Linked DNA regions of Homo sapiens: regions 1, 2 and 4 are each linked to region 3. Evidence: fine-mapped expression QTL. A gene starts in region 3. Each other region holds a variant in brackets. All regions are shown on one strand. Distances are from middle to middle.

Region 1 (7,361 bases), 63 kb after region 3:
TAAATTTCAGTTAACATGCAAACAAAAAAATCTTAATTAATACAGGGACATACTTTTTTTTTGGGGGGGGTGGGGGTAGAGATGGGGTCTCACTATGTTGCCCAGGTTGGTCTCGGACTCCTGGACTCAAGTGATCCTCCCATCTCAACCTCCCAAAATGCTGTGATTATAGGCATGAGCCACCCCACCATGCCCAGCCAGGAAATAAGTTTTACGTCCAAATTAAAAAAAAAAAAAGAGAGAGAGCAATGTTGGATAAGTGATGAATGCTATAAAAGGGGTAAAGATTTTATGCTATAAGATTTCTGAAAAGGGTGGTATTATTATTACTATTATTTTGAGACAGAGTATTGCTCTTGTTGCCCAGTGCAATGGAGTGCAATGGTGTGACTTCGGCTCACAGCAACCTCCGCCTCCCAGGTTCAAGCAATTCTCCTGCCTCAACCTCCAGAGTAGCTTGGACTACAGGCACATGCCACCACGCCTGGCTAACTTTTGTATTTTTAGTAGAGATGGAGTTTCTCCATGTTGGTCAGGCTGGTCTCGAACTCCCGATCTCAGGTGATCTGCCCGCCTTGGCCTCTCAAAGTGGTAGGATTACAGGCGTGAGCCACCGTGCCCGACCTAGCAGTATTACTATTAAGAAGGTCAAGGAGCCTGGGGCGGTGGCTCACGCCTGCAATCCCAGCACTTTGGGAGGCCGAGGCGGGTGGATCACGAGGTCAGGAGATCGAGACCATCCTGGCTAACATGGTGAAACCCCGTCTCCACTTAAAAATACAAAAAAAAAATTAGCCGGGCCTGGTGGCGGGCACCTGTAGTCCCAGCTACTCGGAAGGCTGAGGCAGGAGAATGGCGTGAACCCGGGAGGCGTAGCTTGCAGGGAGCCAAGATCGCGCCACTGCACTCCAGCCTGGGGGACAGAGCGAGACTCCGTCTCAAAAAAAACAGAAAAACAACAACGAAACAAACAAACAAACAAAAGAACGTCAAGGAAAGGAGAAAGCTTTTGAGCTGTACTTTATTTATACTTATTTATTAAATTTTTGAGACGGAGTTTCTACTTTGTTGCCCAGGCTGGAGTGCAATGGTGCGATCTTGGCTTGCTGCAACCTCCGCCTCCAGGGTTCAAGCAATTCTCCCGCCTCAGCCTCCCGAGTAGCTGGGATTACAGGTGCCCACCACCACGCCTGGCTAATTTTTGTATTTTTAGTATAGATGGGGTTTCACCATGTTGGCCAGGCTGTTCTCAAACTCCTGACCGCAGGTGATCCACCCGCCTCGGCCTTTCAAAGTGCTGGGACTACAGGCGTGAGCCACCATGCCCCAGCCTCAGCTGTACTTTAAATTAGAACAATAGAGGGCCTCTCTTCTCTGATGGCATCCACTATAGGAGAAAATGCAAATTATTTATTTTAATAGATATCATCGATAACATTTTTATACTGGCGTGGTTGGAAATATCTTGCACACTTGGGCTCCCTATTGATTGAAGAGAAATCCTTTTAATAGCACAGCATCTAGTACTAGAGTACAGTCACTAATCATTCACTTATTCATTCAACAAGTAGTTATTGAGCACCTACTATGTGCTGGGCACTGTTGTAGGAACTAGGGATAGAACAGTGAACATGTACACCCCCTCAGCGACCTTATAAGGAGAAAAAACCCAAAGTATAAATACAATTTAAATTTGTTTTAAGGAATAAAAAATAAGCCCTTAGAGTTATCTCTCTCATCTCCTCCCGTGTTTTCCTTTGTTTTATTTTTCTTCTTTACCTAGACCATCAAATTTCTTTTTTACAAAGCAGTAACTGGCCCGTAGGTGGCACCAAAGGATGGAGAGCCCTTCCCACAGACGAAAGCTCTCCCAGGCCAAGGAAAGCCCTTTAAATGAGGACTTTAATTGAGGTCCAGGAGTCCCAACACCAGGCATTTATTCATCCCACACTTTCCTAAATTGAGAAATGCAAACTGAGCCTGAGTTGCTAAGAGCCCTGAAACTCATGGGCTCTTGACACAAAGCAAAACACACAAAGCAAGCAAACACCTTCAGAAGAAATCAAGTGCTTCTCTTCCTGCTTAATGAAATGCTTCAAGATACTGTCCACAGAATACCTACATCCGAATTACCTGTGTTATAAGGGACTAGTCTCTATAACAAGCTACGCAGCTAATTCTGATATATATGAAAGTTTGAGAATCAATGGAAAAGTGCTAAGGGTGTGAGTCAGTTTCAGCTCCTCTATAAGTCTTATGTATGGCTTGGGGCAAGTCTCTTAATCTGTATTTCAGGTGTAAAATGAGGATAGCAGTACACATTGTGAACTATCGTAGTTGTAAAGATAAAATGAAAGACCATAAGAAAGTGCTTCAGAATACATAAATGTCATTATTTTTCTCTATTCAGAAGGGAATACATGGCATATAATATCTTAAATCTAGTTTTTATAAACTATTAGAAGAGTAAGAAAAACATGATACTGAAATGGCTTTTCTGTTACAAGTTGTTCCCTTCACCTTTAATTTGTACATCTGAGTTGCTGAGGTGTAAGATGGTAAGCTACCTTTAATATTTGAGACATGGGGGAAAAATTATTCACCTTATTATGAGGCCAGTGCTGTGCCTACATAATAATGTTTAATGTGCTTTCCATTTTTAAAAGTTATTCCATACATCTCATTCAATCCAAATTGCCACCCTATGAGGTGATAAGACTGTAAGGATTTCCCCCTTTTATATGTGTTAGTAGGCATTTGGGAGTTGAAGGACTAACATAAAGTTACACAACTTCTATAAAGAGAACTGAGGCTAAAACTCAGGTATTTAGCTTCTCAGCATTTTCCATTAGAAATGTTCCAATAAATGAGGCCAGACGCGGTGGCTCATGCCTATAATCCCAGCACTTTGGGAGGCTGAGACAGGTGGATCAGCTGAGGTCAGGAGTTCGAGATCAGCCTGGCCAACGTGGTTAAACCCTGTCTCTACCAAAAATACAAAATTAGCCAGGTGTGGTGGCACATGCCTGTAATCCCAGCTACTTGGGAGGCTGAGGCAGGAGAATCACTTGAACTCGGGAGGCGGAGGTTGCAGTGAGCTGAGACTGCGCCATTGCATTCCAGCCTGGGCAACAAGAGCGAAACTCCGTCTCAAAAAAAAAAAAAAAAAGTTCTAATAAATGGCATACTTTCCTGTTTTATACTTTTTCAGTCTGTGATAAAATATTTTGAAGAATTCTGCTCTAGCTAGACATGATACAATGGTTACTTTATTTGTACAAATGACACAATATACACACTAGAGCCACATCATGTGCACCTTTAGCTTATACAAATTTAACAAAATGAGCTGAGCAAAAACTAAAAAATCAGTTTTAATGGTACAGATCATTCTGCCCACCCATGTACTCAATGTATGTGTGTGTGTGTATATATATATATACACACACACACACACACA[T/C]ACACACACACACACACACACACACGTATAAGCCCTGGAGGGAGTGTGGGATAAGATACATGCAGCTTCCTTTCCCTCGGTCAATGTCCAGTGTGTTTCAAGCACTCTAACTTCTAATGGAAGTAGTATTGACTTCTTTAAAAGCAGCGGATTTCACTCATGCCAAATTTTTATGCTCAGGCTCACTGAGGTTGAGTAAAAACGAGAATTCTAACTTTTAAATAGAGATGCTGTCAGCCTATGACATTTAATGCCTTCTTAGTTTCAGTTCTTAGTTTCAACACTGGTCAGAAAATGCTGAGTGTCTGTGTGTGTTGGTGATAGAGAAAGAGGCTCAACCCAGTTTCAGTGATCTTCTTGTTTTCACTAATTAAAAGGATTGCTAATACTCAATCCTTTAGGCAAAGACACAGGAAACCAGGCATTCTTGTGCTTTGTTGGTGGGAGTATAAACTCCTTTAGAGAGCAATTTAGTGATATTTATTTTAAAAATTTAGATGTATGCATTCTTTGACCCAGGAATTCCACTTCCGAAAATGTATCCCCCAAAATACTTGTTTACATGTAAAAATATCTATGTACAACAATGTTCTTATATTATTAATAATACTGTAAAACTTCAACAAAATGTCCACCGAGAAGTGTCTCATTAAATAAATGATATTGAGGCCATACAACAAAATACTATTAGATGAAAAAGAATGAAGCAGAGCTGTACGTGCTGGAAGGTAAATGGAAAAAAGAGTTACAAAACAGTGGAGTGGACATCTGTTACTTTTTGTAAGGCTCAGCTTCCATTTTTCCTGCTTCTCTTTATAGGCTCTTTTTTTTTTTTTTCCTTTTTTTGCAAAATGACTCCCCCTTATCTGGAATCAGAGAGAGTGTTGAATAAGGCATAAGCACATGACCCAATCAAGTTATATCTCTCCTAGGAATTTTAATCTCGAACAGAAACGATACAAAGACAAAAAGTGGTTGGAGGAGGTACACTGAAATGGCAGTGCCTGGAGAACTGCACATGAGCCCTTGCTCTCTGTGTCATGGAAGTTGCTTTACCAGCGTGGCTCTTCATGTTTTCCCGCTCAGTTCTTCAGCTCTTTACCTACCTCATATCCTTCCAATAAATTCCTTTTCAGCCTTAAGTCAGCCAGAGTTTATTTCTATTGCTTGCAAATCAAATAATCCTACTGATACAAAAGTAATCTCATTTTTGTAAAGTCATATATAATATAGCTGTACATATGTATATAGAAAAAAACCTAGAAATATACATGCCAAATTAATGGAGACTGTTTGAGGGTAGAGATTGGGTGGAATGGGATTGTCGAAAAGGTGAAGATGGGCTGATGCTGGTCAAATGGTAGAAAGTTCCAGTTATGCAAGACGAATAATTACTGGAGCTCTAATGCACTCACTGCATGGTGATGATAGTTAACAATGTTGTATTACATGCTTGTAATTTGCTAAGAGGACAAGTCCTAAATTAAATCTCCCTACTCAACCCCATGCACACATGCACACAAATGTAACTATGCGGAGGTAATGGATATGTTAGTTAGCTTTCATGTGGTGATTATTTCACAATGTATACATATATCAAAACATCAAGTTGTATACCGTAAATACATACAATTTTTATATGTTGATATCTCAATAAAACTGTTAAAAAGAACTTTCACTACTTAGCTTTATGTGTTTCTGTTTTCGTCTATTTTCAATGTTCTTGAGTTACTTTTGTAAATAAAAAAGCTTTGAACATTTTCATGAAGGTGGGCTCTGGAATAAGACTAAACAAAAGAAAATCTAGACTTTTAAGAAAAATACTCTTACAGAGTTATTTTTTGCTCAACTGGCTAGAACCTAATACTAATGAAGTCACCAATATAGTTTCTATCATTTTTAGGGAGTAATTATCTTCTGTAACTTTTATTGACATGAATTGTCCCCTTAGCCTCAGACTTCCTCCAAATATCTATTATTAGAATAACAATAAATGTTACATGAAAAGACTCCCAAATGACTTATTTCCAACTGGCCATTAGCCTTTTTCATTTTGATTTTTTGACTTCTGACAAACTCAAAATGTGCAGTACTGAATCAGCTTGCTTGCTTTCCTTCCTTCCTTCCTTCCTTCCTTCCTTCCTTCCTTCCTTCCTTTCTTTCTTTCTTTCTTTCTATTTTTTTGAGACAGAGTTTCACTCTTGTTGCCCAGGCTGGAGTGGAATGGCGCGATCTCGGCTCACTGCAACCTCTGCCTCCCAGGTTCAAGTGATTCTCCCTCCTCAGCCTCCCAAGTAGCTGGGATTACAGGCACCCACCACCACACTTGGCTAATTTTTGTATTTTTAGTAGAGACAGAGTTTCACCATGTTGGCCAGGCTGGTCTCGAACTCCTGACCTCAGGTGACCCACCTGCCTTGGCCTCCCAAAGTGCTGGGATTACAGGCGTGAGCCACCACGCCCACCCCCACCCCCCCCCCTTTTTTTTTAAAGACAGTCTCACTCTGTCATCCAGGTTGGAACGCAATGGCATGATCTCAGCTTACTGCAAGCTCTGCCTCCTGGGTTCAAGCCATCCTCCCACCTCAGCCTCCCGAGTAGCTGGGATTACAGGCGCCCACCACCACGCCTGGCTAATTTTTGTAGTACAGATGGGGTTTCACCATGTTGGCCAGGCTGGTCTCGAACTCCTGACCTCAAGTGATCCGCCTGCCTGAGCCTCCCAAAGTGCTGGGATTATAGGTATGAGCCAGCATGCCCGGCCTGAGTCAGCTTCTTACCAAAACCTCTCTTTAATCTCTTCTCTGTTTCTACCACATCTTCATTTCCCCTAGTGTTAAGCCCTAGAAATAATTTTGATTCCATCATCTTTTCTCTCATATCTTTTTTTTTGAGACGGAGTCTCCCTCTGTCACCCAGTCTGGAGTGCAGTGGCGCAATCTCTGCTCACTGCAAGCTCCGCCTCCCGGGTTCACGCCATTCTCCTGCCTCAGCCTCCCGAGTAGCTGGGACTACAGATGCCTGCCACTGCGCCCAGCCAATTTTTTTGAATTTTTAGTAGAGACGGGGTTTCACCATGTTAGCCAGGATGGTCTCCATCTCCCGACCTCGTGATCCGCCCGCCTCGGCTTCCCAAAGTGCTGGGATTACAGGAGTGAGCCACTGCGCCCGGCCTCTCTCGTATCTTAGTATATGTCAAGTCCTGTTTACTTTAAACTTCAAATGGTGTTTTGAATCTACTGCTCTGACAGCCACTACCACCAGCCTTGTCCATATCCTATTTCCTGCTACTAGTCTCTTCTCTCTAATCCTGTGTTTCTCAAGCAGTTTTTTTTTTCATCATTGCCCCTATAAGGAGGCTTTCTAGGCTTTTTCTCCCTTAATTATCCCCATCACTGAAATATTAATACCACAGGTAAACTGTGTATCTGTTTATGCACTGTGGTCCTTTGAAGCTGTAATAAGACCTAGGTCACCGCACCCCAACAGGAACCCACTTTCACCCACTGGGGGCGTTATCACCCCCATTGAGAATCTATGTTCAAATCATTCTGTGTATTACTGTCAATCTGGGCTAATCTCTTTAAAGTACAATTTTAGCCATATCACTGCCCTTCTCAAAAATGTTTAGCAGGCTGGATGTGGTGGCTCATGCCTGTAATCTCCACACTTTGGGAGGCTGAGGCAGGCAGGTCACTTGAGCTCAAGAGTTTGAGACCAACCTGGACAACATGGTAAAACCCCCACCTCTACTAAAAATATAAAAATTAACCGGGCGTGGTGGTGTGTGCCCGTAATCCCAGCTACCTGGGGGGCTGAAGTGGGAGGATCGCTTGAACCTAGGAGGTGGAGGTTGCAGTGAGCTGAGGTTGCGCCACTGTACTCCAGCCTGGGCAACAGA
Region 2 (7,361 bases), 31 kb before region 3:
TCTGCATGTTGGTCAGGCTGGTCTCGAACTCCCGACCTCAGGTGATCCACCCGCCTCGGCCTCCCAAAGTGCTGGGATTACAGGCGTGAGCCACTGCACCCGGCCTGGACTATGCATTTCTTAAGGAAGAAGAATGAACGCCACAGGTCAGTCACCTGCCCGAGGAGCTGTGTTACATTGTCATTTAATCTTCACAAACCCCCTGGTGAAACAAATCAGGAGACTAAGGCTCAGAAAGGGTCAGGGATTTTCTATGGGTACAGGGCTTGGGAATGGCACAGCTGTCATTTGAACCCAGGTCCAATGGTCTCAGTGCCTTTTCCTACTACACCACACTGATGCCTCCAGTGAGAAATAAGCCCAGGGAATGACAGACTTACTAAGAATGGCCCTCCAATACAGGGCAGTAAAGGTAATGTTTTGCTACGAAAGATGGTCCCAGGTCAATAATATCCTGTCATTTTGAAGAGGTAAAGAACTGTTTTTCCATAGGATCATAGAGAAGAGTACTCTGCTCCCACCCAGAATCTCCTTAGGAAATGAAATACACAAGTTCCGTTTGGTTCCTTCGCCCCTACTGGGGTTTCCTTTTGGGAGGGGGTTCTGGGCATGCTCATAGTAGTCTTCCAAAACACTGTAAAACTGGCTGGGTGCAGTGGCTCGTGCCTGTAATCCCGGCACTTTGGGAGGCCGAGGCGGGCAGACCACTTGAGGCCAGGAGTTTGAGACTAGCCTGGGCAACATGGTGAAACCCTGTCTCTACTAAAAATACAAAAATTAGCCAGGCTTGATGGTGCGCACCTGTAATCCCAACTACTCGGAAGGCTGAGGCAGGAGAATGGCCTCAACCTGGGAGGTAGGGATTGCAGTGAGCTGAGACTGCACCACTGCACTCCAGCCTGAGCAAGAGAGAGAGATTCTGTCTCAAAAAAAAAAAAAAAAAGAAAAAAGAAAAAGAAAAAAAAACTTAAGACTATGACTGATTCTTTCTTTTAGCTCTTTTTAGAAAATTAAATAAAACAAATGCATGAATGACTGGCTCAAAATGTACACATTGTCTTTCTGTCTCAATGACAGACCTGCAATGTGTCCAGCCCTGAGGTTTGGCGCTGTAAAAGAACACAGACTTTGGAATTGATTAGACCTGGACCTGAAGGAAGGCACTGCTGCTTTCTTCTGGAATGAGCTTGCAGAAATTACTTCACTGAGCCTCCATCCCCTTATCTGGAAAATGGAGATGTCACCACCACCCTGAGGAGATGATGAAAGGGTTTATAAGAATACCTGATGAAATCCCTAGGCCAGTGTCTAGCACATCGTAGGTCCTCAATGGTAGTTGCTATTATTGTTCTTGTGAAAGGAAGGGAACAAAACAGAAGTGAAGACAGATGCGGGAATGGGTGTTTGGTTTGATTCTAGGGAACACTCACCTGGAAGTGTTTCCTACTGAAGAGAGAAAGGAAAAACCATTAATATCCAGTAACATCCACTTCAACCTGACAGGTTCTTAATCAGGCAAACATTTACTAGAGGAACAAATAAGAAAACTGACTCAATATGACAGGTGATAGGGTGTCCCGGGATGGTACTTAGGTGACTTATTACTGTGTATCTTGACCCAGCAAAGAAGCCCAGAGAACAGAACTTCAGGTGGGAGCAAGGCAGGGGCCATCCTTCCCCATCCCGCACCTTTTCAAAAGTCTGGAAGAGAAGCTAAAGGACCCAGGGAGTCCTTACCTTTCCAGCAGAACACAGGGCTATAATGCAACAGAAGCCCTGAGATAATGGCCAGTCCCAGCAGAAGGAGGCTCACAATGGTTCCCACAATCCCCCCGATATTTAAAGGTTCTGTAAAGACAAATCACACCATTGATTCTTCCATCAGATATGTGTGCAATTAGAACAACACCTCCCTTTCTCTGCGTGGATCCAGTTCTTGTCTTGATTCCTGACCTTGGGTAAGGCTTATGACCTGTCTGTAATGCCAGATAAATATTTTATCACCCAACCTCAGAGAGTTTGTGGGGATCAGATGGAGCAGGGAATGTGAACAAACAATGGAAAGTTAAAATCTCTCTGTCTACCAAACACTGAGACTATTTCTAAGGCCATGGTAAGTAAGAGTGTTGAGAGTTATCAATGCCATGATAAACAGAGTGATCAACGGAACAGAACAGAGAGTCCAGGAACGGGTCCACACGTAAGTATAATTGATATATGACAGGGTCTTGAGCAAAGGAAGCACTATTTAAGAATTGGTACTAGAGCCCGGGCGCAGTGGCGCATGCCTGTAATCCCAGCACTTTGGGAGGCTGAGGAGGGCGGATCACCTGAAGTCGGGAGATCGAGACCAGCCTGACCAACATGTTAAAACCCCGTCTCTACTAAAAATACAAAATTAGCCAGGTGTGGTGGTGCATGTCTGTAATCCCAGCTACTTGGGAGGCTGAGGCAGGAGAATCACTTGAACCCGGGAGGCGGGGGTTGCGGTGAGCCAAGATCGCGCCATTGCACTCCAGCCTGGGCAACAAGAGCGAAATTCCATCTCAAAGAAAGAAAGAGGGCCGGGCGCGGTGGCTCACGCCTGTAATCCCAGCACTTTGGGAGGCCGAGGCAGGCGGATCACGAGGTCAGGAGGTCGAGACCATCCTGGCTAACACAGTGAAACCCCATCTCTACTAAAAATACAAAAAATTAGCCGGGCACAGCGGCGGGCGCCTGCAGTCCCAGCTACTTGGGAGGCTGAGGCAGGAGAATGGCATGAACCCAGGAGGTGGAGCTTGCAGTGAGCCGAGATCGCACCACTGCACTCCAGCCTGGGTGACAGAGCAAGACTCCGTCTCAAAAAAAAAAAAGAAAGAAAGAGGAGGGGAGGGGAGGGAAAGAAAAGAAGGAAGGTAGGAAAGGGAAAAGGGAGAAGAGAAAGGAAAAGGGAGAAGGGAAGGGAAGAAAGAGGCCAGGTGTGGTGGCTCATGCTTGCAATCTCAACACTTTGGGAGGCTGAGATGGGAGGCTCACTTCAGGCCAGGAGTTCAAGACCAACCTGGTCAACACAGTGCGACCTCATCTGTATAAAAAATAAAATAAAAAGAAATAAGTAGAGACATATATAGTAAAACTTAAAATTCAGGACCATGGTTACCTTTCGAGAGAGGCCCAAGATGAGACTAGGCCTACAGGGAGGGTTCCCAGGTAAAATTCAGTATGCCCAGTGAAATTTGGATTTCAGATAAACAATGAATAGTTTTTTTAGTGTAAGTATGTCTCATGAAATATTTGGGACACACTTATACTTAAAAGTATTTATTTTTCTAAACTCAAATTTAAGCAGGCATCCTGTTTTTAAAGTTCTATTGCTATTTTCTTCTTTTTGAAGTGGATTCTCGCTCTGTCACCCAAGCTGAAGTGCAGTGGTGTGATCTCGGCTCACTGCAACCTTCGCCTCCCAGATTCAAGCAATTCTGCCTCAGACTTCCGAGTAGCTGGGATTACAGGCACCTGCCACCATGCTCAGCTAATGGTCTCGAACTCCCAACCTCAGGTGATCTGCCCATCTCAGCCTCCCAAGTAATTTTGTATTTTTAGTAAAGACGAGGTTTCACCATACTAGCCAGGCTGGTCTCAAACTCCTGGCCTCAAGTGATCCACCCGCCTCGGCCTCCCAAAGTGCTGGGATTACAGGCGTGAGCCACTGTGCCCAGCCCTATCGTTGTTTCCAAATCTGGCCCTGAGACATACAAGTAACCTAATGCATGTTGGTACTATTCTGTATCCTCAGTGGGATGATAGTTTCTTAGGTGTTCATTTTGCTGTTATGCTTTACAACTGACATACACTAGATATCTATTCGTTGGTGTGTATAGATATTATGTAATTTTTGCTACCTATGGAAATATTAGTGAGTTTAGGGTTGGATAATTTCTTCCAGCCACCTTGTCAAGTCATAAGCAAGCAGATATGCCTTCTCCCAGTTGGCAGTGACCCA[T/C]GTGTAGGGAGGCACCAGGCTGTCCTCATGCTGATGCTGGGTGCTCTGAAGCTCTGAACCCTCCCTCCTTCAGGCCCAGTTCCACCACTCACCTTTCACACTCAGCCAGATTTCCATCTCCCTCACCCCTACAGGGCTGTCAGCTCGGCAGATGTAGTAGCCCTCATCCAGGTCCTGGGAGCAGTTGTGGATAGTGAGGGTGGAGTTCTGGCCATCCTGGGTAATGAGATGGCGGCTGCTAGGCTGGATGATCACCTCGGGCTGGGTAAGGTTCCTCAGCCACAGGATCTTGGCAGGGGGGTAGGCCCCAGACACCTGGCATGTAAGCGTCACATTGCCCCCAGTGAAGCAAGTCTTCATGGGCTCAGAGAGAAGGGAGGGACCCCCTGGTGATCAGAAGGTAAACAAAGACAAATGTTTAAAGAGATTCAAGTCATGGCCTGAGATCTGCAGGAAAACTGCAGTAGTTTTTTGTTTTGTTTTGTTTTGTTTTGAGATGGAGGTTTTGCTCTGTTGCCCAGGCTGGAGTGCAGTGGTGCGATCTCAGCTCACTGCAACCTCTGCCTCCCTCCCGGGTTCAAGCAATTCTCCTGCCTCAGCCTCCCGAGCTGGGATTACAGGCATGCGCCACCACACCTGGCTAATTTTTGTATTTTTAGTAGAGACAGGGTTTCACCATGTTGCCCAGGCTGGTCTCAAACTCCCAACCTCAGGTGATTTGCCCATCTCAGTCTCCCAAAGTGCTGGGATTACAGGCGTGAGCCACCGCATCCGGCCCCAGTCCCCTTTATCTGTGATTTCACTTTCTGAGGTTTCAGTTACCATGGTTGACTACAGTCCAAAAATACTAAATGGAAAATTTCAGAAATGAACAATTTTTTTTTTTTTTTGAGATGGAGTCTCACTTTGTCGCCCAGGCTGGAGTGCAGTGATGCAATCTCAGCTCACTGCAATCTCCACCTCCTGAATTCAAGAGATTTTCCTGCCTCAGCCTCCCAAGTGGCTGGGATTACAGGCATGAGCCACCACGCCCACCTAATTTTTGTATTTTTAGTAGAGACGGGGTTTCACCATATTGGCCAGGCTAGTCTCAAACTCCTGACCTCAGGTGATCCACTTGCCTTAGCCTCCCAAAGTGCTAGGATTACAGGCGTGAGCCACCGTGCCGGGCCAATTCATAAATTTTTTATTTTTTCATTTCTTGCAGTACTTTTAAGTATATTCACAATTTCCTAAGTTTTAAACTGCACATTGTTCTGAGTCGTGTGACGAAATCTCACACCATCTGCATGAGCCTTTCTTCATCACAAGAAGGCTGAGTAGATATTTTGAGAGAAAGATCACATTCGCATACCTTTTATGACAGTATATTGTTATACTTGTCTATTTTTTATTAGTTACTATTGTTAATCTCTTATTGTGCCTAATGTATAAATTAACCTTATCATAAGTATTTATGTATAAGAAAAAGCATAGTATATATATGTATATATGTATATATGTGTATATGTATATATATGTGTATATATGTATATATGTGTATATGTATATATATGTATATATATGTATATATGTGTGTATATATATATGTGTGTGTGTGTATATATGTGTGTGTGTGTATATATATATATAGGGTTCAGTGCTACCCATGGCTTCAGGCATCCACTGGGGATCTAGGAACATATCCCTCATGGGTAAGGCAGGAACACTACATTTCCTTCCTAATGAAGCAACTCCAGAAATTTCTTTTTTTCTTTTTTTGTTTTTGAGACAAGGTCTCGCTCTGTCACCCAGGCTGGAGTGCAGTGCTGTGATCTTGGCTCACTGCAACCTCTGCCTCCCAGGTTCAAGTGATTCTCATGCTTCAGCCTCCCAAGTAGCTGGGATTACAGGTGCCTGCCACCATGCCTGGCTAATTTTTGTACTTTTAGTAGAAACAGGGTTTCACCATGTTGGTCAGGCTGGTCTTGAACTCCTGACCTCAAATGATCCTCCACCTTGGCCTCCCAAAGTGCTGGGATTACAGGCATGAGCCACCGTGCCTGGCCAACTCCAGAAATTTCTCCACCACACCTCGTCTTACATCATAATAAGCCTAAGATTACTAGGCATTTACTGTGGGCAAGGCACTGTTACATGTATTAACCCAATTCACTCTCACAGCAACCCTGTTATTATGCCCATTTTGCAGATAAGGAAACTGAGGCACAGAGAAAGTTAAGTAATTTGCTGAATGCTACAGAACTAAATAGGCAATGCAGCTAGGATTCAGAGTGATCAACTGCCCCAGTCTGCCCAGGACGTGGAGTATTCCCAGAATGAGGAGTTTTCAGTCCTAAAACCAGGAGAGTTCTGTGCAAACCAGGATAAACTGGCTACTGTATCCATAAGCCTTCCTTCTATGCTATACACTTTTACACATAAAAACTGTACTGATCGTATAAAAATGGACACATATCTGACAAGGATTTCAAGGGGACAAGAGGGCAGCTGTATTTGTTTCCAATTGCTGATGTAATAGATTGTGACAAACTTAGTGGCTTAAAGCACATTTATTCTCTTAACAGTTGTGGAGGCCAGGAGTCTAGAACGTCTTACAAGGTTAACATCAAGATGTTGGCAGAGCTGGTTCCTTTTGGACGCTCTAGAGCAAGCTTTTCCAACCTGCAGCTGCGGGCTAAATTCGGCCCAGGATGGCTTTGAATGTGAGGACATTTTTGTTTATCTGTGTGATGGATATCATGAAAATTATGCACGGTCCCTTTTTTTTTTTTTTGGCTCATCACCTATCGTTAGTGTTAGTGTTTGTGTGAAATACATTCCCATGATCAAATTACCTCCCACCAGGTCCCTCTGCCAATATTTGGAGTTACAATTCAACATGAGATTTGGGTGGGGACACAGAGCCAAACCATATCATGGTGTTTCGCTGTGTTGCCCAGGCTGGTCTCAAACTCCTGGGCCCAAGCAATATGCCCGTCCTTGGCCTCCCAAAGTGCTGGGATTACAGTCATGAGCTACCACATCTGACTGATCCTGGCGCTTCTGATCTCTCTTACCTTTCCCTTTTTTTTGTTTTGAGACAGAGTTTCACTCTGACACCCAGGCCTGGAGTGACCGCTCACTGCAGCCTCAACCTCCTAGGTACAAGCAATACTCTCACATCAGCCTCCCCAGTAGCTGGGATTATAGGTGCATACCACCATGCCCAGCTACTTTATTTATTTTTTATTGTTTGTAGAAACAAGGTCTGTGTTGCCCAGGCTGGTCTCGAATTCCTAGCCGTAAGCTATCCTCCTGCCTCTGACTCCCAAAGTGCTGGGATTACAGGCGTGAGCCACCACGCCCGGCCTTCTCCCTTCTTACAAAGAAAGAC
Region 3 (7,361 bases):
CTGCCCACTTCGGCCTCCAAAAGTGCTGGGATTACAGGCGGGAGCCACCGCACCCAGCCAAGAATTATTTTTAAATTATTAGGATTGGGAACCCAAATTATCCAGTGGCAACCGCCACAATGGAAAGGAAGATGAACTTCAGAGTTACAGATGCAACATGTGTTCATGCAACCTGCAGACCTGCCCCTTGCCTAACTCCTTGGCAAAGAAATAAAGGAACAGTGGCTTGGAAAAAAGCCGTGGTGAAACTTTAGTCTTGGAACTTGAGCTAACATTGTTTTCTCCTCCAAGGCATAGAATGACATGATCACAAAAGAAACCATTTGAAGACATTTCACTTCTCCTGGTTTGGCTTACTCCGTTCTTTTTTAAACCACTGTATCTGAAGGTGCCCTTGGAGATCATCTAGTCCAGAGATGTGGCTGCCCTGTGGGCTGGGTTGAAGATGAGATTGAGTCCTGGTTCAGTGGAAAAGAACACAGTCATCGATTTAGTGATGTCTGACATAGACATGGAAGGGGTAGTTCTTGCCTGGCAGTCCTAAACCTCCTCACTTTACTACTGAGAAAATTGAGATTTAGGAAGATTAAGTTATCACTTAAAGTCCCAAGCAAATCACTGGGAGATGTGGGATTGTCACTCAGGTCACGTTACTCTGGTCTCCTGCACCAGACAGGATGCAATGATAAAATATAGTAACAAGTTTAGAAGTCATTCATATGGTGTCCAGAGGGTCCTTCTTGCCCCCCAACCTTAAATGTACAATAGAGAACCGAAGAGGGAGTAATATAAACTCCCTGATGCTGCCCATGTATTATTATTTACAGAGTAGGAGTTATACCCAAACATTTATTTATTTTTTTAAAGCAACTTTTCCCAAGAATAACCTAGGATTTACAATCCGGGGTAGCTAGTGGATGCATATAAGTTGTCTGGCATTGAATGTCAGGAGAAAAATTTTTTTCCCCAAAAACTCCCAACTTAAAAAACAAACACACAACAAAAATACACCAAGCTCAGGAAGCCCCCTGGCATCATACACAAAGGTGAAGCAGGTCTGGGCATCAAAATAGCTGGGCAAAGGCCCAACACGGTGGCTCACACCCATAATCCCAACACTTTGGGAGGCCGAGACAGGAGGATCGCTTGGGTCCAGGAGTTTAAGACCAGCCTGGGCTCAAGCGATTGTAGAGACCGTCTCTACAAAAAAATTTTAGAAATTAGCTAGGCGTGGTGGTGCACGCCTGTAGTCCCAGCTACTTGTAGGCTGAGGTGGGAGGATCAGTGCAGTGATTGCACCACTGCACTCCAGCCTGGGCAACAGAGCGAGAGCCTGGCTCGAAAAAAATAGCTGGCCATAGCAGTGGAGATAGGTTCCCCATGGGGCGGGTGGCAGTCAGCCTGAAAGCCAGGTCATTCCAGCAGGATGACTTCATCCCAGGGTTCTTCTCACTTCCCAGGTTCCTGGTGTTCATCGTGCAGGAAACACTGCAAACAGCTGGGGAGATGGGAATACTTGACAACCACCTTTCACGTCCAGAGATGACCAACTAGGAACTGTCCTCCCCCATCACCCACACCCCAGCACAGTGATTACTCAGCCAAATGCCTGCAGGGCCAGCAGGTAACACCCATGACTGAAGGTGGCGGGGCAAATATTACAACAGGGAGAGGTGGAACAAATTTGGGCTCATATGCCCTAGATAAGAGGATGACCACTGCCCAATTCCAACTGGGAAAGCAGGCCCCGTGTTGCCAGACCTTCAGATTTTTCCAGATAAACTGGAAATCTAGAGATGTTATTGTTTTTAAATGGTTGGTTAAAAAAAAAAAAGCAAAATAAAATTGTATGAGCCTAATAATTAGGAACTCTTGGCACTTGCTGCTAAGAAGCTCCAGCATACTTTACAACCCATCTCCAGAAACGTGCAAGAGGAGACCCGTTGGGTGGAGCAGACCCGGGAACACAAAAAGTAGCGCTCTGCCTGCATCCTGGCAAACTTCACCACCTCCTGGCTCCATCTCCTCTCCCTGCACCCCAGCCTCCTCCCAGCTTGTCACACTCCCAGCACACAGTAGGCATGCACAGTAGGCATGCTGGTGAATTAAATTCAAATATATATAAATAGTTCAATCTTTTTACATTCTACATATTTTTGTAAGCACCCCTCCAATTCTTTTTTCGTAGCAAAGCAGACCATAGATGAAGCATTTCAGACCTTTTGTCAATCATGTCAAGTGTGAGGGGAAGTCTTTTGTAAGTCAGCCAAGTATTTCAAAATAAAAAGCTTTTCCAAAAGTAAAGGCGGAAGACCCCGCTTTGAAGGCGCTGGTCGGCACAGGAAGACTTGCAAAGGTGTGTAGGGAAGTCCACCGGTTACAGGTGTAAGGCGAGTTCAACCTTGGGCAGAGGGAGGAGAAAAATAAAGTGGGAGTCTCGAGTTTGAGCACCAGCGTATCAGTTACTACTAAAACCAGAACGCGAATTTACATCCGACGCTTAAAAAAAAAAATCACTTTCCCGGCACACGTGCCTCTTTACTTTGCCCCCGCACGTCGGCTCGGCTCGGCTCCTCTGCAGCCTCACCGGCTGCCCACCCCAGGAGGCTGGGGGTATCTCGCCCCGCACCGGGCGCCCGGGAAAACTCCTTCCTGCAAAGACGGCCGAGCTGCGAGCAGGAAACCAAGACCCTCCTGGGGCAGCTTCTAGGCTGGGGCCACCACGGATCCGGGCGGAGTCGGAGGGAATTGGGTCTCTCGCTGTCCCCTCCCCACCGCTGACTGGGAAAACTCAACTTTTCCCTCCAGATCGCGGCCCCTTACCTACGGCGACCCAGCCGGCCAGGAGCGCCCCGAGGCAGACGAGGACGCGGGGCTCGGGCGCACTGCCGCCTGCGGCCATCTCGCCCCAGATCCCGGCTCAGGAAACGCAGGCTCGGGCTGGGCTGGACGTGTGTGCCCCAGGGCCCCGGGGCCCGGGGTACCGAGGGCTCCTCCCAGGTCCTCGGAACGGCAGAGTGGCCCCACTTCCTCGGCCCCCAGGAAGGATGCTTGGCTGAGCCGAGTGTCCAGGGCCGGCAGCGGAGCTCGGCTGCAGGCTCGGGTCCCCGCTCCCGAGCGCCCTGGCCGGGGAGGGAGGGCGCACCCCGCCCCCTGCGCCCGCCAGCCTACTCCTGCCGGCGGAAAACAACAGGAGCGGGATCCCTCCCGCCTCCCAGCCAGGCGGGAGCCCAACTTCCTCTACCTTGGCCCGGGAGGAGGGCTTTCTGCCGAGGGCGCGCCGAGCCGGGTCCCGCCGGGCCAGGGGCGGGGCGCGGAGGCTGGGCCCTCCCCAGTCCACTCCGCCCGGGACAGCAGTACCGAGTCGCGGGGACAGCGGGCGGGACGGAGCCCTGCAGCTGCCGCAGGACGCAACCCCCGCCGCTGCCCCGGGCTGCAGAACCCGGAGGAAGCGGTTGCCAAGCTGCAGAACGCAGGACCCCCCTGGCAGTCCCCGCTGAGCGTCTCGAGGGATTCCGGTCTGTGTCCCTGGGCGCAGGGCGGGCGCCAAGGCCGCCATCGCTTCCTTTCCTTACCCTCTGCAAAAGGGAGCCAGAGAAAGATGATCCCCTGACTTTCAGCCAAAGCAGCCACGAGACTCCGGTTCTCCAGTGAACTGGCTGGGACCACACAGTGACAGCGAGAGCCAAGGAGTCCCCAGGACGTGTTTCTCAAGAGTTTTGTTTTTGCTTTTCCCCTTTTAGTTCTCCCACCCCTTACCCAGTCAGATTCCCAGGCTAAGCTCCTCTCTTCCCTGCCATGCCCTCATCCCATTCTGTCCTGGGGAAAATGCGGCTTTGATATCCTCAGGAAGAGCCATCCATAAAACAGCCCTAGGAGAAACTTCCTGTTTCAAATAATAATAATATGGCAGGGCGTGGTGGCTCACACCTGTAATCCCAGCACTTTGGGAGGCCGAGGTGGGCGGATCACAAGGTCAGGAGTTCGAGACCAGCCTGACCAACATGGTGAAACCCTGTCTCTACTAAAAATACAACAATTAGCCGGGCATGATGGCGGGCGCCTGTAATCCCAGCTACTGGGTAGGCTGAGGCAGGAGAATCGCTTGAACCCAGCAGGCGGAGGTTGCAGTGAGCCGATATCACGCCATTGCACTCCAGCCTGGGCGACTGAGCGAGACTCCATCTCAAAATAAATATTAACGTTAAAAAAAAATCATTAGTTCTGTTGTTCAACGGTCCCCTTATTGAAATGCTTCTTCCATGAGGAAATCCTCTTGAAACCACTTTAAAAAAAAAATGTTTCTCCTGGTGAACTGAGCAATGAAGCTGAACAGTTCTGCCTTTTTTACTTTTCTGTTTTTTATTTTTTTGAGACAGGGTGTCACTCCAGTTGCCCAGGCTAGAGTGCAGTAGCACAATCATACCTCGCTGCAGCCTCAAACTACCAGGCTCAAGTGATCCTCCCACCTCAGCCTCCCGAGTAGCTGGGACTACAGGTGTGCAGCACCACGCCCAGCTAATTTTTGTAATTTTAGTAAAGACAGCGTTTCTCCATGTTACCCAGGCTGGTCTCGAACTCCTGACCTCAAGTGATCCACCCGCCTTGGCCTGCCAAAGTGTTGGGATTACAGGTGCGAGCCACCGCGCTCAGCCCTTTTTTATTCTTTGCTCAAATATTTTTAAATAACTGTTCATCAGCCGGGCACGTTGGCTCATGCCTGTAATCCCAGCACTTTGGGAGGCCGAGGCAGGTGGATCACCTGAGGTAAGGAGTTCGAGAGTAGCCTGGCCAACATGGTGAAACTTCGTCTCTACTAAAAATACAAAAATTAGCCCGGTGTGGTGGCAGGCGCCTGTAATCCCAGCTACTTGGGAGGCTGAGGCAGGAGAATCGCTTGAACCCAGGAGGTGGAGGTTGCAGTGAGCCGAGATCGCGCCATTGCACTCCAGCCTGGGGAGAAGAGCGAGACTTCGTCTCAAAAAAAATAAATAAATAAAAAATAAAATAAAATAACTGTTCATCAGATTCTTGACAGGAATTTTGTTTGTTTGTTTTTTGAGACGGAGTCTCGCTCTGTCGCTGCAAGCTCCGCCTCCCAGGCTCATGCCATTCTCCTGCCTCAGCCTCCCAAGTAGCTGGGACTACAGGCTCCTGCCACCACGCCCGGATAATTTTTGTATTTTTAGTGGAGACGGGGTTTCACCGTGTTAGTGTGGGGAAAAGCAAGAGAGATCAGATTGTTACTGTGTCTGTGTAGAAAGAAGTAGACATGGGAGACTCCATTTTGTTATGTACTAAGAAAAATTCTTCTGCCTTGAGATTCTGTGACCTTACCCCCAACCCCGTGCTCTCTGAAACATGTGCTGTGTCAAACTCAGGGTTAAATGGATTAAGGGCGGTGCAAGATGTGCTTTGTTAAACAGATGCTTGAAGGCAGCATGCTCCTTAAGAGTCATCACCACTCCCTAATCTCAAGTACCCAGGGACACAAACACTGCGGAAGGCCGCAGGGACCTCTGCCTAGGAAAGCCAGGTATTGTCCAAGGTTTCTCCCCATGTGATAGTCTGAAATATGGCCTTGTGGGAAGGGAAAGACCTGACTGCCCCCAGCCCGACACCCGTAAAGGGTCTGTGCTGAGGAGGATTAATATAAGAGGAAGGCATGCCTCTTGCAGTTGAGACAAGAGGAAGGCATCTGTCTCCTGCCCCTCCCTGGGCAATGGAATGTCTCGGTATAAAACCCGATTGTACGTTCCATCTACTGAGATAGGGAAAAACCGCCTTAGGGCTGGAGGTGGGACCTGCGGGCAGCAATACTGCTTTGTAAAGCATTGAGATGTTTATGTGTATGCATATCTAAAAGCACAGCACTTAATCCTTTACCTTGTCTATGATGCATAGACCTTTGTTCACGTGTTTGTCTGCTGACCCTCTCCCCACAATTGTCTTGTGACCCTGACACATCCCCCTCTCGGAGAAACACCCACGAATGATCAATAAATACTAAGGGAACTCAGAGGCTGGCGGGATCCTCCATATGCTGAACGCTGGTTCCCCGGGTCCCCTTATTTCTTTCTCTATACTTTGTCTCTGTGTCTTTTTCTTTTCCAAGTCTCTCGTTCCACCTTACGAGAAACACCCACAGGTGTGGAGGGGCAACCCACCCCTTCAGTTAGCCAGGATGGTCTCGATCTCCTGACCTCGTGATCCACCTGCCTCGGCTTCCCAAAGTGCTGGGATTACACGCGTGAGCCACCACACCCGGCCTGGAATTTTTTTTTTTTTTTTTTTTTAGACAGAGTCTCCCTATATCATCCAGGCTGAAGTGCAGTGGTGTAATCATACCTCACTGCAGCCTCAACCTCCTAGGCTTAAGTCAATCCTCCCAGAGTGCTGGAATTACAGGCATGAGCCACTGCACCCAACTTGGTTCTTGCTTTTCATGTTTGACCTTGTGGAGATCCTATACTAACCAGACCTGTTTCCTGTATCCTCAGTACCTGCCAGCTAGTTGCCATTCTAATATACATTTGTTGAGTAAACAAATGAGAATTGATTAGTTTTGATATTGTAGTTCCTCAGCTTTTCTGGCAAACACCTTACATCCTCACCTGCAATAAACAAGCGGTAAATAAAATCAGTAACTGGGCCAGGCAAGGTGGCTCATGCCTATAATCCCAGCACTCAGGAAAGCCAAGGTGGGCAGATCCCTTGAGGTCAGGAGTTCGAGACCAGCCTAGCCAACACAGTGAAACCCCATCTCTACTAAAAATAAAAAATTAGCTGGGCATGGTGGCGCATGCTCGTAATCCCAGCTACTTGAAAGGCTGAGGCAGGAGGGTTGCTGGAACCTGGGAGGTGGAGGTTGTAGTGAGCTGAGATTGTGCCACTGCACTCCAGCCTGGACAACACAGAGAGACACTGCTCAAAATAAATAAATAAATAAATAAATAAATAAATAAATAAATAAATATTTTTAATTAAAAAAATAAAACCAATAACTGGCCAGTTTTCAGCAGAGGGCCTGGAATTCTCCATGGCCTCATGGTGGCTTGCCCAGGGCGGCCTTCCTGACATATTGGCGAGGTCGATGCATAGTTCTAATCTCACTGGACCCTCCCTGCAACCCTTGGACCTAAGGTGCAGTGCCACATACCATCGGTTTTATTTATTTATTTTTGAGATGGAGTCTTGCTCTGTCCCCCAGGCTGGAGTGCAGTGGCATGATTTCCGCTCACTGCAGCCTCCGCCTCCTGGGTTCAAGCCATTCTCCTGCCTCCGTCTCCCAAGTAGCTGGGATTACAGGTTCACGCCACCACACCTGGCTAATTTTTGTATTTTTAGAAGAGATGGGGTTT
Region 4 (7,361 bases), 22 kb after region 3:
TGGCGCATGCCTGTAATCCCAGCTACTCGGGGGGATGAGGGAGGAGAATCGCTTGAACCCGGGAGGTGGAGGTTGCAGTGAGCCGAGATCGTGCCGTTGCACTCCAGCCTGGGCGACAAGAGCAAAACTCCGTCTCAAAAAAAAAAAAAGAAAAAAATCTTTCTACATTTTTTATCTCACTCTAAAAAATACCACAGTTAACTATTTGTTTTTTATTCTTTCAGATATGCATTTATGTACATATGCATTATATGGACACATTAACATAAATATATTTAAAGACATAGATAAGGTCACACACTACATGTTGTTGTTTTTTGAGCCTCTCTCTGTCACCCAGACTGGAGTGCAGTGGCGTGATCTTGGCTTACTGCAACCTCCACCTCCTAGGCTCAAGTGACCCTCTTACCTCAGCCTCTGGAGTAGCTGGGACCACAGGTGAGGGCCACCACACCTGGCTAAATTTTGCATTTTTTGTACAAATGGGGTTTCGCCATGTTGCTCAGCTGGTCTCAAACTCCTGGGTTCAAGCAATCTGCCCGCCTTGGCCTCCCAAAGTGCTGGGATTAAAGATGTGAGCCACTTTGCCAGGCATGTATGTATGTGTATGAGTGTGTGTATATATGTGTGTGTATATATATATATATATATACACACACACACACACATACATATATATTTGTTTGTTTGTTTTGTTTTGTTTGAGACAGAGTTTCACTCTTGTTGCCCAGGCTGGAGTGCAATGGCATGATCTGGGCTCACCGCAACCTCCACCTCCCTGGTTCAAGCGATTCTCCTGACTCAGCCTCTCCAGTACCTGGGATTACAGGCATGCGCCACCACGCCCGGCTAATTTTGTATTATTAGTAGACATGGGGTTTCTCCATGTTGGTCAGGCTGGTCTCGAACTCCTGACCTCAGGTAATCCACCCACCTGGGCCTCCCAAAGTGCTGAGATTACAGGTGTGAGCCACCACGACCGGCCCACCTCAGCCTCTTGAATAGCTGAAACAACAGGCACCCTGCCACCCCACCAGCTAATTTTTGAATTTTTTCTTCTTTTTTTTTTTGTCATGGAGTCTAGCTCTATTGCCTAGGCTGGAGTGCAGTGGCATGATCTCGGCTCACTGCAACCTCCACCTCCCAGGTCCAAGCAATTCTCCCGCCTCAGCCTCCTGAGTAGCTGGGATTCCAGGTGTGTGTCACCATGTGCGGCTTTTTTGTATTTTTAGTAGATACAGGGTTTCACCATGTTGGCCAGGCTGGTCTCAAATTCCTACCCTCAAATGATCCACCTGCCTTGGCTTCCCAATGTGCTGGGATTACAGGTGTGAGCCATGGTGCCCAGTCATATTTCTGTATATGTGACATTTGCCCTTCTAGAACTTTGATCCAACTCTAGGGAATTGGCTTGGCAACCCTTTTTAATCTAATCTCTTTGTTTACTTACCTTGAACTTTTGGTCAAATGTTCACTACAGATAAACATGACTAAGTCAAAACAGTTGGAGAAGTAGAAATAAATTCCAGGTTGATGTGTTTTAATGAATACAGTTTCTTAATTTCCGGAGCTTGCGGAAAATTCCGGAGCTTGCAGAAACTCATAACATTTTGATAAGTAGAGATGGAGTCTGTTTTAATTAAGTGGCCAGTATCATACATAATTAATATTAGCTGTGTACACACGCAAGGGGCTTACTCACCTGCTACTTAGATGCTGCTCTCTTAGGCTGATTAACAAGCTCTTTGCATTGGTGTGTGCATCACTCATTTGCTACTTGCAGAAGACATCTTTTGCCTTTACGTTTCCTACCTGTATTTCTTTTTCTTTTCTTTCTTTCTTTTTTTTTTTTGAGACAAAATCTCACTCTGTCACCCAGGGAGTCTAGCTCTGTCTCCCCGGCTGGAGTGCAGTGGCACGATCTCAGCTCACTGCAACCTCTGCCTCCTGGGTTTAAGCAATTCTCCTGCCTCAGCCTCCTGAGTAGCTGGGATTACAGGCACCTGCTACCACGCTCACCTTTTTTTTTTTTTTTGTATTTTTAGTAGAGACGGGGTTTCACTATGTTGGCCAGGATGGTCTTGATCTCCTGACTTCGTGATCCACCCGCCTCAGCCTCCCAAAATGCTGGGATTACAGGGGTGAGCCACCACACCCAGCTGTAATTTTGTATTTTTAGTAGAGATGGGATTTCTCCATGTTGGTCAGGCTGGTCTGGAACTCCTGACCTCAGGTGATCTGCCTGCCTCGGCCTCTCAAAGTGCTGGGATTACAGGCGTGAGCCACCACACCCGGCCTTTATTATCTTATAATTTCTATAGATCAGGGGTTTGGGGATACCAGACCTGGGTCTTCCGCTGACCCAGGGTCTCGCAAGGTTTCAATAAGGTCTCAGCCAGGTCTCGGGTCTCATTGTCAAAACCTTAGTCAAGCTGGGAGGGCAAGCTGAGGTGTCAGGTGTCCAAATAGCCAATTAAGCAATAAGCCATTGGCCAGGTGTATTGGGCTCATACCTGTAATCCAAGCGCTTTGAGAGGCCAAGGCAGGAGGATCACTTGAGCCCAGGAGTTTGAGACCGGCCTCGACAACATAGTGAGACTCTGTCTCTCCAAAAAAAAAAAAAAAAAAAAAAAAAAAACAATAAAAAAATTAGCAGGGCATGGTGGTGCACACCTGTAGTCCTAGCTACTCAAGAGGTCGAGGTGGGAGGATCACTTGAGCCCACATGGTTGAGGCTGCAGTGAACCATGATTGCACCACTGCACTCCAGCTTGGGTGACAAAGCGAGGCCCTGTCTCAAAAAATAAAAAAAATAATAAAAAAGATAGAAAGCAATAAGCCAAAAATGAAAGAGGAAAGGCTTTATCACTTGACTGTGATGGTATAAGGGCTAAGAGTGGAAAAGTACTAGGTATGAAATCAGGGTAGGAAACAGTGGGTTCAAGGTTTCCCGCTCCCATCCCTAGAAGGGGGCCTTGGCAGAAGCCCCATAGAAGACCTCTGCCCAAGGCCCCAGATAAAGAGACCTAGGATCAAAGGTGCTGCCTGGCTAGGAATGCAAATGTGTTCAAGAGCATGGCCGGCCAGGGCCACTGGAGTCTCTGACTCCAGTTCCCTTCAGACACTGCAGTGCATAGGCTGGGCACCCAGTGTGGTGTGGGGAGGGCAGCTTTCCCCGAGGCCGGCCAGGGAAAGCCTTCATCATTGCCCACAGTCAGGCAGGCCTGAAGAATCTCACCTAGGTTTTCAGCCAGGACTCGTACTCCCCACTCACCTGAAAGCCGGGCTTTCGGGGGAAGGATCCACTTCCAAGGTCACTCACTGGTTGCTGGCAAAATTCAGTTCCTGGAGGGGTGTTGGGCTACGGTCTCAGGTCCTCGCTGGCTGTTGGCCAGAAGCCGCCCTTGGTTCCTTGCCACCTGGGCCTCTGCCACACGATGGCTTGCTTCCCAGAGGCCTGCAAGCTGAGAAAGTAATGGAGAGCGCGTGCTAGCAAGATGGAAGCCACAGCCTTATTTATGTATTTATTTATTTATTTTTTTTTTTTTGAGACGGAGTCTTGCTCTGTCGCCCAGGCTGGACTGCAGTGGCGCGATCTCGGCTCACTGCAAGCTCCGCCTCCCGGGTTCACGCCATTCTCCTGCCTCAGCCTCCCGAGTAGCTGGGACTACAGGCGCCCGCTACCACGCCCGGCTAATTGTTTGTATTTTTAGTAGAGACGGGGTTTCACCGTGTTAGCCACGATGGTCTCCATCTCCTGACCTCGTGATCTGCCCGCCTCGGCCTCCCAAAGTGGTGGGATTACAGGCGTGAGCCACCGCGCCCAGCCCACCACAGCCTTATACAACGGAATCGGAAGTGACATCCTGTCCGCACGTCATATGTTGTTTGAGATAGGGTCTTGCTCTGTCGCCCAGGCTGGGGCGCAGTGGTGTGATGATGGTTCACTGTAGCCCTGAACTCTTAGGCTCAAGCCATCCTCCAGCCTCAGCCTCCTCAGTAGTTGGGACTACAGGTGTGCCACCACACCTGGCTAATTTTTTAATTTTTGGGGGAGATGGGGGTCTTACCATGTTGCCCAGGCTGGTCTTGAGCTCCTGGGCTTAAGCAATCCTCCTGCCTCGGC[T/C]TCCCAAAGTGCTAGGATTATAGGCGTGAGCTGCTGCACCTGACCCAGCCTTACATAACTTAATCAGAAGTGACATCCCGTTTACATGTTATGTTATTGATTAGAAGCAAGTTACTCAAGGGGAGGGGAGCACACGGGGCCATGAATACCAGGACGTGGGGTTCACTGGGTCCATCTTAGAAACTGTCTACCAGAATGGTTATCTGGAAACATGAAGGAGGAGTCTACTTGAAATTGAAACCACCCCACAGGTGGAAACACAGGAGGGAGACAGATACCTAAGGTATTAGGTAAGTCCCTGGATCCAGACACTCCTGAAGCCAATCACCCACCAGCATCTCAGTACATGAACAAATTACTTTTCTTCTTCTTCTTCTTCTTTTTATTTTTTTATTTTTTGAGACTGAGTCTCGCTCTTGTTGCCCAGGCTGGAGTGCAGTGGTGCGATACCAGCTCACTGCAACCTCCGCTTCCCGGGTTCAAGCAGTTCTCCTGACTCAGCCTCCAAAATAGCTGGGATTACACGTGCCCACCACCGGGCCTGGCTAATTTTTGTATTTTTAGTAGACAGGGTTTCACCATGATGACCAAGCTGGTCTCAAACTCCTGACCTCGGGTGATCCACCCGTCTCAGCCTCCCAAAGTGCTGAGGTTACAGGCATGAGCCACTGCACCTGGCCTTCTTCTTTTAAAATACCAGTTTGTCCAGGCGCAGTGGCTCATGCCTGCAATGCCAGCACTTTGAGAGGCCAAGGCAGGAGATCACTTGAGCTCAGGAATGTGAGACCATTAAGAGCCTTGTGGGGCTGGGACTACAGGCCCATGCTACTAGGCCCAGCTAATTTTTTTTTGTATTTTGTGTAGAGACAGGGTCTCACTATGTTGCTCAGGCTGGTCTCAAACTCCAGAGCTCAAGCGATCCTCCTACCTTGGCCTTACAAAGAGCTGGGATTACAGGTGTGAGCCACCATGCCCGGCCCTACAAAGCTTTTGATGGCCCCTCTGTAGTCTCTAAGTATCACCTCCATTCTATATTAGCTCCTACCATTCACAACAGCTGTTTCTCCTTAGGCACTAGTGCTGATTAAAAAGTCGAATCTGACAATGCCATCCACATCAAGCTACCAATGACTTTCTTCACAGAATTGGAAAAAACTACTTTAAAGTTCATATGGAACCAAAAAAGAGCCTGCATTGCCAAGACAATCTTAAGCAAAAAGAACAAAGCTGGAGGCATCACGCTACCTGACTTCAAACTATACTACAAGGCTACAGTAACCAAAACAGCATGGTACTGGTACCAAAACAGAGATATAGACCAATGGAACAGAACAGAGCCCTCAGAAATAACACCACACATCTACAACCATCTGATCTTTGACAAACCTATCAAAAACAAGAAATGGGGAAAGGATTTCCTATTTAATAAATGGTGCTGGGAAAACTGGCTAACCATATGTAGAAAGCTGAAACTGGATCCCTTCCTTACACCTCATACAAAAATTAATTCAAGATGGATTAAAGACTTAAATGTTAGACCTAAAACCATAAAAACCCTAGAAGAAAACTTAGGCAATACCATTCAGGACATAGGCATGGGCAAGGACTTCATGTCTAAAACACCAAAAGCAATGGCAACAAAAGCCAAAATAGAAAAATGGGATCTAATTAAAGAGCTTCTGCACAGCAAAAGAAACTACCATCAGAGTGAACAGGCAACCTACAGAATGGGAGAAAATTTTTGCCATCTACCCATCTGACAAAGGGCTAATATCCAGAATCTACAAAGAACTTAAACAAATTTACAAAACAAATCAAACAACCCCATCAAAAAGTGGGCAAAAGATATGAACAGACACTTCTCAAAAGAAGACATCTATGCAACCAACAGACACATGAAAAAATGCTCATCATCACTGGCCATCAGAGAAATGCAAATCAAAACCACAATGAGATACCATCTCACACCAGTTAGAATGGCGATCATTAAAAAGTCAGGAAACAACAGGTGCTGGAGAGGATGTGGAAAAATAGGAACACTTTTACACCGTTGGTTCAACCATTGTGGAAGACAGTGTGGCGATTCCTCAAGGATCTAGAACTAGAAATACCATTTGACCCAGCGATCCCATTACTGGGTATATACCCAAAGGATTATAAATCATGCCAGTATAAAGACACATGCACATGTATGTTTATTGCGGCACTATTCACAATAGCAAAGACTTGGAACCAACCCAAATGGCCATCAATGATAAACTGGATTAAGAAAATGTGGCACATATACACCATGGAATACTATGCAGCCATAAAAAAGCATGAGTTCATGTCCTTTGGGATGAAGCTGGAAACCATCATTCTGAGCAAACTGTCGAAGGACAGAAAACCAAACACCGAATGTTCTCACTCATAGGTGGGAATTGAACAATGAGAACACTTGGACACAGGGTGGGGAATATCACACACTGGGGCCTGTCGTGGGGTTGGGGGAGGGATAGCATTAGGCGAAATACCTAATGTAAATGATGAGTTAATGGGTGCAGCACACCAACATGACACATGTATACATATGTAATAAACCTGCACATTGTGCACATGTACCTTAGAACTTAAAGTATAATAAAAATAAATAAATAAAGCTTAAAAAAAAGGTACACCCACTTTGGAGAAATGTTTGACAGTTTCTTACAAAATTAAACACCATATAATCCAGTAATCCTACTCCTGGATATTTACCCAAGAGAAATTAAGATACATGTCCACAAAAAGATATACTAGAATGTTTACAGGAGTTTATTCATAGTAGTAAAAAAACTGGAAACAGCCCAAAGTTCATCAACAGATAAAAGGATAAACTGTGATTTTAAAAAAAATAAGTGGCCGGGCGCAGTGGTTCATGCCTGTAATCCCAGCACTTTAGGAGGCCGAGGTGAACGGATCACCTGAGGTCGGGAGTTCGAGACCAGCCTGACCAACATGGAGAAACCTCATCTCTACTAAAAATACAAAATTAGCCGGGCATGGTGGTGCATGCCTGTAATCCCAGCTGCTTGGGAGGCTAAGGCAGGAGAATCGCTTGAACCCGGGAGGCGGAGGTTGTGGTGCGCCGAGATTGTGCCATTGCACTCCAGCCTGGGCAACAAGAATGAAACTGTGTCTCAAAAAACAAAACAAACAAACAAAAATAGTCAACTCTGATTGGTCCAGGTCATGCTGTTGAGTCAGGCCATTTCAT

Which allele goes with the higher level. Alleles are on the strand shown, and positions count from the first base shown. SD is a standard deviation of normalised expression in the study named. Not every link is listed here.
In carriers of allele T in region 1, the expression in prefrontal cortex of the gene that starts at base 3,242 in region 3 tends to be higher than with C alone (moderate effect, 0.47 SD a copy in ROSMAP).

What was found. PIP is the estimated chance that this variant, and not a neighbour inherited with it, causes the effect. A credible set is the group of variants that fine-mapping cannot tell apart.
Region 1: its variant is the best candidate, but not a certain one, in a credible set for the expression of VSIG10 in prefrontal cortex (ROSMAP, PIP 0.61).
Region 2: its variant is the best candidate, but not a certain one, in a credible set for the expression of VSIG10 in lymphoblastoid cells (GTEx, PIP 0.77).
Region 4: its variant is the best candidate, but not a certain one, in a credible set for the expression of VSIG10 in whole blood (INTERVAL, PIP 0.57).

What each region holds. Positions count from the first base shown.
Region 1 is chr12:118,163,387-118,170,747 of GRCh38, forward strand. All of the region lies in intron 17 of TAOK3 (TAO kinase 3), which reads right to left. Among named protein-coding and RNA genes, the nearest start is that of PEBP1, 31 kb to the left of the region's middle. RefSeq lists a silencer at 3,510-3,559 and an enhancer at 3,800-3,909. The variant T/C (reference allele first, on the strand shown) is at 3,461.
Region 2 is chr12:118,069,622-118,076,982 of GRCh38, forward strand. VSIG10 (V-set and immunoglobulin domain containing 10) reads right to left here. Exons shown (of 9, transcript NM_019086.6): 5 at 4,078-4,371; 6 at 1,738-1,848; 7 at 1,431-1,446. LOC124903030 (a long non-coding RNA gene) reads left to right here. Exons shown (of 2, transcript XR_007063479.1): 2 at 6,553-7,361. Among named protein-coding and RNA genes, the nearest start is that of WSB2, 12 kb to the left of the region's middle. The variant T/C (reference allele first, on the strand shown) is at 3,986.
Region 3 is chr12:118,100,770-118,108,130 of GRCh38, forward strand. VSIG10 (V-set and immunoglobulin domain containing 10) reads right to left here and starts at 3,242. Exons shown (of 9, transcript NM_019086.6): 1 at 2,824-3,242. The coding sequence starts at 2,902. LOC124903029 (a long non-coding RNA gene) reads right to left here and starts at 2,813. Exons shown (of 2, transcript XR_007063478.1): 1 at 2,220-2,813; 2 at 836-1,498. RefSeq lists a silencer at 3,086-3,335 and an enhancer at 4,977-5,692.
Region 4 is chr12:118,123,207-118,130,567 of GRCh38, forward strand. LOC101928274 (a long non-coding RNA gene) reads right to left here. Exons shown (of 4, transcript XR_945409.4): 2 at 3,275-3,464. Among named protein-coding and RNA genes, the nearest start is that of PEBP1, 9.2 kb to the right of the region's middle. RefSeq lists enhancers at 1-427, 2,838-3,132, 3,308-3,844. The variant T/C (reference allele first, on the strand shown) is at 4,127.